2 linked regions of the Homo sapiens genome follow. The protein of the gene in region 1 purifies or fractionates together with the protein of each later gene. This does not show direct contact. Each region holds a gene or a part of one and is shown on either strand. Other genes may lie near its edges. The genes, in order: SPATA19 and MFF.

Evidence for each region.
Region 2: the proteins of SPATA19 (region 1) and MFF purify together in Homo sapiens (affinity purification with mass spectrometry; 2 studies listed by BioGRID and IntAct, with this or other methods). This does not show direct contact.

The regions. Positions count from the first base shown.
Region 1 is NC_000011.10:133,842,599-133,846,973, forward strand, and holds the start of SPATA19 (spermatogenesis-associated protein 19, mitochondrial precursor), read right to left. Parts: upstream 2,916-4,375; 5' UTR 2,849-2,915; coding exon 2,771-2,848; intron 2,593-2,770; coding exon 2,536-2,592; intron 2,043-2,535; coding exon 1,911-2,042; intron 1,740-1,910; coding exon 1,648-1,739; intron 1-1,647.
Region 2 is NC_000002.12:227,335,007-227,338,822, forward strand, and holds part of MFF (mitochondrial fission factor), read left to right. Parts: intron 1-3,816. UniProt on the Homo sapiens protein: Plays a role in mitochondrial and peroxisomal fission. Promotes the recruitment and association of the fission mediator dynamin-related protein 1 (DNM1L) to the mitochondrial surface.

The sequences.
Region 1 (4,375 bases):
TGAGTTTCTTTCTTAACAGGCATAGAGAGCTGCTAGAGATGGGATCCTGCAAACAATGACTCTTGCCCTGACACCATGAACTTTTGAGCTGGTCTCTCCCCCTTCTTGACTCATGAGCACAAAGCTTTTTTTTACTAACCAGGTACCCTTGAGCCCCCAGTAATGCTGAACAGGTAGCAGACTGTCCCGGGGAGAGCCAGGGACACAGAGCTGAGTGCCCTTACTAAAGGCAGCAAGCAGTGGTCTCGTGAGCCGTGGAATTCACCCTTCTGAATTCAGTCTTCTGAATTCCTCTCCTATCATCAGCTCTTGATGACCTGCATCACCCCACACCCACTGTGGTTCAGAGATGCTTCTAGGAAAGCCTACAGCGAGGAAGCTGTGGGGTCCCCTGGGGAGCCTCCTTGCTTTGTTTCATAAAGGGATATATATATTTCCTGACTATATACTTACTGAAATAAGAGGGGGACACCAAAACCAGTGGGTTGTGGGGGGAGATAGGCGGAGGCTTTTGGTTTAAAATCTTTGTAGAAAATCCAGAGTGGAAAAATTATATGTAAATAATTGACTGATTCCTGTAGCCTGTCTGAAAAGCTTAAAACTAGTTTTTTTATACAGACGAGATTTTTAAAATATTGGAAGATGATGTGTGTGTTATCCAAACCAAGGAGCACAATGTCCGCAATTCCATAGCACAACCACGTCAGGCACAGAAAAGCCTGGATTATAATCAACAACATTTATGATTTTAGGGGCCTCAGAAGGCTTCCCATCCAAAAAAACTCTTTCCCAGGGAGCTCTCAGATCCCACCATGTTATTCCTTTTGGTTATGAAATTACTGTGCATTTGAGTCTTCCTAAAAGGCAGATGCCACTAGAAGGGGTAAGCACATGGAAACCGTTTCTTGAGAAATGGAGCCTCCTTGATACAACAGATCAACATCGATGATGCGGCAGGGAAAGGAGGAAGAGAGGAGGAAGGGGAGAAGTCTCCTTCAGGTTCCCGTAGGACCAGTCTAAGCCCTCAGTCCCTCTCCTGGGAAGGGGTGGCTGATGTGCTCCAGAGACCCCCAGTGAACACAGGTGCAGGAAAGGAAATAGGAAAGCCTCTGTCTGAAGCATGATGGCTTCAGGCCAGCTCCCTGGGCCTCGGGGCTCAGCATCTGCAGAGCCACGAGAGGCAGTGGGGACGGCTGTGAGCTGGCAGGCACCCGGGACGCTGGCGAAGCCACCATAACCGAGTGCAGAATTCTAGCCTCGGGCGCTGGGAAGCCTCCCCACACCTCAGTTGCAGATGAAAACTTTGGCTTTTGCATTTTAAGAGCTTATTTTCTTTTAGCTCTTTAAAGTGCAGCCACTTCTGAGCAACTCAAGTGCAAAAATAACAGAAATCTGAAATGTATTCAGAAGCATTTAAGAAATGGAGTGCAAGCCCAGTTTTCCAACCCCTCAAGTCATTTAAAAATGTAGAAATGAGCTGGGCTTTCAAGATAGCAAGGATATTCCCTTAAGACCCCAAAGCAAGGCTGAGGAATTTGTCAGCCAAAGACGACATCTCTAGAGAAGAGCATCTGAGGGTTCGTGAAGAGAGGGGCTTGCGCATCTCTCCCTCCCCTTCCTTCGCCCAGGGCAAGTGGGACACCTTACCTCCATCTTATGAACTGGATTCGTGTTCTCTCCTCTAGGACCTCTTGGCTCTGGTTTGCCAACAAATCAGACTTAGAGAGGTGGTGCTTCACCTGGGAAATCCAGAGGGTCCATGTGATTCCTGCCCAGTGTGGCCCCCAACTGGGCTGGCACAGAGCCCAGACGAGCACCTCACCCTTGCCCAGAATCATTTACGGTGCACCTCCCACCTCTCCCCTCTCCCTCACCGCTACTCCCAGGCAAGGTCTCAAACTCTCATTTACCACATCTCTGGTCACGTGGATGTCCTGGCCATGGGTGGGAGGGGAGTCAGTGGACATCTTCTCCCTTACACCCTGGGAAGGGTGGTTGATGGACAGCTTTTCCTTTATGCCCCGAGAAGCCTCTTCTTCTGTCTGAAAGGTGAGAAATTCCCTCTGAAAATGTCACTCTGCATCCAACCCTGGGTCTTCTTCTCCTCTTCCTTTCCTTTTATTCATTCTCCATCACAACTCACACACCACATATTCACACACATACACTCCTTACCTCACTGTTCCCACAATAAGCTACTTCCCTGTAAAGTCCTCAGAACTCCCTAAGTCCCTGGCCCTATCCCAAGGTGTTCCTGAGACACCCTTGAGCTGGGAAGGATGCAGCTGAAACCCTTAAGCCAGGATGCTTGAGAAGCAGGACGGCGTTAGTGGTGGTGCTAACACATTTCCTGCCAGGACACAAGCCACAGTGTCCTCCAGCACATGTGAAGAAATTAGACTCAAATCTAGGAAGGGTGTCTGGCAATGAACTTGAGTTCCAGTTCCATGAAGAAGGAAGTCCAGATCCCCACACCCACTGAGACCACTTCTCTAGCATTTTGGATATCCTGAGTCATAAAGAAATCTTACTCACTTTTTTCAACCAATGATGTAGTACAGACACAGCCTCACTTTCCACAACGTCAATGTCCTGGAACAAATTGGCAAGTTGGTGACCTCAGAAAACCTAGAAATTCAGCTCTTCCCACCCAGCCCCCGCAACTGTTACTCAAATTTATTTGTAAGATCTCTATGAAGTGCAGCAGGGTCCCACAGGGGGAGAAGATATATGAAAAATTATTCCATGTGACTACCACCAAGCTGCTTACCGAACTGGTTATTGGTAGGAAGGGAAGCCCTACACCTTTCCGAGCAAGAATATACACAATCCATGTCGTAATTATCATCTTTGAATGTATACCAGGCCCCCTTCTTGGCTCCCTCCTTCCATTGAAGCTGCCTGAGAACTCCTATGGGACAGGAAGGTCATTGAAGGGAGGTGTCCACCTGATTGGCTGACCCATGGTGATGTGACAATGGCCTCCCTTTGAAAATGATGTATGTGAGTATAAATGCCGTTGCCAAGAGCCCCTGCATTTCAGGCTCTGGGTGCACTCCTATGAGTTACCCTGCTTCAAGGAGCAGAACCATTGAATAAAAGATTGCTGTCTAACACCATTGGCTGACCCTTGAATTCTTTTCTTGGGAAAGCACTAATTTGGGAGCTCACCTCCAGGCAGGAGGATGGGGTCTGGAGCCAGGAAACCTAAGGCCGATTTACACTGACTTCCTAGAACTAAATCAAAAGGAAAACCCCAACTTTCCGTGCCCAAGTAACAAAAAGACCAGAGGCTACGCCCTTTGCAACCCTCTCCTTTTCTGCATGGCAGATGAAAAACTGAAAGTATCTCTGATTGCTCCCCTCCCACAATCAGGCTGGTTGTGGGCCAGGTCTTCATTTGCATAGAGATATAACTTTATAACTTCACTTCAGCCTCTGATTGGTCACTTTCCGCAACCAATCAGACTGATCATGAGCCACTACTTCATTTACATAGGGTATATACCAAGTAACCAATGGGAAACCCCTAGAGGGTATTTAAACCCCAGAAAATTCTGTAACCAGTCTGCTCCCATCCTGTGGAGTGTACTTTTATTTTCGTTAAATCTCTGCCTTTGTTACTTCATTCTTTCCTTCGTTTGTGTGTTTTGTCCATTTCTTTGTTTAAGACGCCAAGAACCTGAACACCCTCCACCAGTAACAACCTGTCCCGCAACAACTTGTCATGTGCTCTTGACCTAATCATTAGTCCCTCTGGTCTGAGTTTCTTTGTCTTATACTGAAAGGGATAGAGTTGTGTCCCTAGCTTTCTTCTAACTCTAATATTCCAAAAATTTTCCCACGTTTATTCTTCTCAGGATTATAGAAAACCTTTTATCACTTTCTCCAATTCCCCTGATACAGCCACTACACGTCTTCCCTCTCAACAATTCGCCTCAATTTTATATCATCCCTGACATAGTCAGAATCGGCTAGGCTCTGCTGAGGACTGAGGCAACAAACCAACCTCCAAATCAAAATGTTTATTTCTCACTCTCAAAAGCTCTCGTGCAAGTTGGGTAATTTCAGAGCAATTGTGTGCCATGTGGAGACTCACAGGTCCACATTCAGAGGACACGACCTCCATGACTGCCAAAGCAGGGAAGAGAGCACAGAGAGGAATCAGGTCAGTGTTCCACCTTTCAGCTCAGAGGCTCCTACTTAGAGCTTTTGATCTAGAACTAGTCCTATGGCCCCTACCTAATTCCAAGGAAGACTGGAAATTGTAAAATAGCAGATGAAATTACCTGTCAACATCTCTGTTTCTACAGCTATCCCCTAAAATTTATGTTTTCATCCTTATTGATGTAATTTTATTTTTGAATATTTAAAA
Region 2 (3,816 bases), on another chromosome or scaffold:
GAAAATACAAAAATTAGCTGGGCATGGTGGTGTGGACGCCTGTAATCCCAGCTACTCTGGAGGGGGAGGCAGGAGAATCACTTGAACCCCGGGGTGGAGGTAGCAGTGAACCGAGATTGTGCCACTGTACTCCGGTCTGGGCAACAGAGCCAGACTCTGTCTCTCAAAAAAAAAAAAAAAAGGTACTGATACATGCCACAACATGGATGAACCTTGAAAACATGTAAAGTTTAAGAAGCCAGACAACAAAGGCCATATATTGCATTTTTCTACTTACATGAAATATCCAGAGTGGCCAAATGAATGAAGACAGGATACAGAGCAGTGGTTGTCAGGGGGTTAGAGGAGAGGGGACTTGAGAGTGACTGCTTAATCAGTATGGGGTTTCCTTTTGGGCTGATGAAAATATTCCGGAATTAGATAGTGGTAATGATTACACAACGTTGTGAGTGTACTAAATGCCGCTGAATTGTACACTTCAACATGGTTAAAATTGTGTATGTTATGTGTGTTTTAAAATAAAAAAGAAAATACCTCCAGACATTGCCAAATGTTCTCTACAGGGCAAGATCACCCCCTACTGAAAACCACTGACCTATCTCAAGAAAGGAGAAGGCTTATGAGGAAGCCTATAAAATTGTTGTCTGAAAGCCTGATTGATGCAAGGGATAAATTTGTAGAAAGCAGTTGTACTTGAGTTCTTAAACTGGCTTAAAGAATCCAGGTGAGCCCTTGAGGAGGGCTTAAAACATAACATAAATAATCCCTTAGCTCAAAGACAGTTTAAAAATGTGAGGCTTGGCTGGAAGAGAGGAAGTTGACAAACACTTTCAATATGCCTAATCTCCACCAATATTTGGAAATCAGCTCTAAGATAAGACCATTGCTTGGTGATTCTGTCTGCTGGGAACTAACAAAGCAACTGTTCAATAAACCATGTGATCTGGGCATGAAATACAAAATGCCCAAGTCATGACAGTTTTCAGTGTTCCTACAGTAGACTAGGCAGTGTGAATGAGGAGAAAGAAGCTGTAACACTGACATTACCAGCTCTTCTCAAAAAGGAATCCGAACTGGAGCCAGTGGGGAAGGATCTTCCAGAGAACAAGAAAGAAGAACTGTAAAGAAAGAGTTGGAAAATGCTGCCTGTAAGAAGATTTGACACAACCTTGAACAGTGTGACTAAGTCAAAGATGTGGACTCTGCCGTTAAATCCTATCAATCAAGCCGTGATATGCTTTGAAAAAATCAGCTACAATAAACCCTAAGAGCTTTGTGAGAAGGCCATTGAAGTTGGAAGAAAAAACAGACTGGTCTAAAGATAGAGAGTAAAAGCTTTTGCCCAAGTTGGCATCTCTTACTTCAAAGAGGAGAAATACGAGAATACTATTCATTTCTATAATAAATCTTTGGAAGAGCACTGAACCCCAGATATACACAAGAATCGTCAATAGTTAGGAATTAATCTGGAAAGAGCAAAATCAGTTGGCATATATAAAATCTGACCTGATTTTGGAGGAGAAGAGTAAAGGCATTGAGTGGTTTCAGAAATGGAACTATCTCCAAGCCATGCCAGCTTTATACAGAAGCCATCAAATGGCATCCTCCACAGGATGCCAAATTCTACAGCAGTTATATCCAAAGTGTACAGCCAGAGCTGGAGGAGTAGAAGAAATATCTAGCTAGATCCACCCTTAACACAGATTATACTTAGAAAGCAGCAGCCTTAGAATCTGAAGGATGACACAAAAGCCATGAATGTCTAGCAGAAGGCCCTAGACCTGTAATTCTACCGTAAAGAAGTAGCAGATGGTTATTGGTGCCCAGTTCAATTGATATGACAACGCTAAGGATGTGAAGCAAAAAACCATAGCTATATGACATATCCTAAAACAAATGCAGAAGGGCTCCCAGGGACTCAGTGAATATTTAAAAGGGTCCTGTGGAAGCTTAGAAAATCAAGAACTTCATGAATATGGGTCTGATCACACTTTGGTGATGGTTTCTTGAGCTCTTTTTCCTTCCTCATCACTTCTGGAAAGAGGAGCTGGGACTGCAATGAGCAGAATGGAGCAAAAGTCTGGAGAGAAGAGGAAAAGCTGAATTGTATATATGTTTACACATTCATGCATGGAAAATTCAGAGATGGACACTTGCGTTCTTTGTACAGCTACAGTTTTATGGCCCTCTTAGCACAAGCATGGTCTCGTCACTCCTGACAAATTGGGCTATGTGTCCTTCCCAAAACCCGCAGTCACTGGCTTAACTGTTCTCCCCATGATTCGTGATTTTAAATTTTGGACAATGCACATGTTGGGGAGGGAAGATATTTATCCCAACTGTTCAGTCTACATTGATAATTTGTACCTTTCCCCCTTCTGCATAAAAGTCCCACAGAAAATGGGGGTGAGTATAGAGGAAAAACACGAAGGCTCTGAGTAGATTCCTGAAGAAGAGGTGGGCTTTGAACAGATTGAGAGAATCAGCCATCAAAAAACCTAGAGGACATTTACTTGCCCAGGAATTTATGAACAATCAAATTTAACTTGGGGTGTAAGCATATTAAAGGAGAATTGTATGCAAGCATGCAAAGTGTCTAGTGCTACATGTTATATAACTATGTAGCACTAGACACTGTGACCCAACTTCCAGGAAGCTGCTTGAACTTAGGAAACTATTTCTCAGCCTCCGGGATGAATAAAACTAAGTGCATAACCACTGAAGGATGATTCTGAAAGACATTTTAAAATTCTGCATTGAGGCCAGGCACAGTGGCTCACATTTGTAATCCCAGCACTTTGGGAAGCCGAAGTGGGTGGATCTCTTGAGGTCAAGAGATCACCAAGCCTGGCCAACATGGTGAAACCCCATCTCTACCAAAAAATACAAAAATTAGCTGGTCATGGTGTGTACCTGTAATCTCAGCTACTCAGGAGGCTAAGGCATGAAAATCTCTTGAACCCGGGAGGCAGAGATTGCATAAGCCAAGATTGTGCCACTGTACTCCATCCTGGGCAACACAATGAGACCCTATCTGGAAAAAAAAAAAAATCTCAGATTGAAACAAAACAAACATCCAGGCCGGGCATGGTGGCTCACACCTGTAATCCCAGTACTTTGGGAGGCCAAGGTGGGTGGATTACTTGAGGTTAGGAGTTCAAGACCAGCCTGGCCAACATGGTGAAACCCTATCTCTACTAAAAATAACAAAAATTATCTGGGCGAGATGGCATGCACCTGTAATCCCAGCTACTCGGGAGGGTGAGGCATGAGAATTGCTTGAACCCAGGAGGTGTAGGTTGCAGTGAGCTGAAATAGCACCATTGCACTCCAGCCTGGGGGAACAGAGTGACACTCTGTCTCAAAAAAAAAAAAAAGAAAAGAAAAACATCCACCTGGGATTACAGGTGTGAGCCACCGTGCCCAACCAAAAACATCAATAAATATTGATTGATATTTTGAAAATCTTAATTTTCAAGTCCTTAATTCACACACTATTTGTTTTTTTACTATAAAGTTTAATTTTTTAAAAACCATAATGTCGGCCGGGCGCAGTGGCTCACGCCTGTAATCCCAGCACTTTGGGAGGCTGAGGCAGCCAAATCATGAGATTAGGAGTTCGAGACCAGCCTGGCCAACATGGTGAAACACCGTCTCCACTGAAAATACAAAAATGAGCAAGGTGTGGTGGCACACACCTGTAATCCCAGCTACTCAGGATGCCGAGGCAGGAGAATTGCTTGAACCCGGGAGGCAGAGTTTGCAGTGAGTCAAGCCGAGATTGTGCCACTGCATTGCAGCCTGGGCGACAGAACA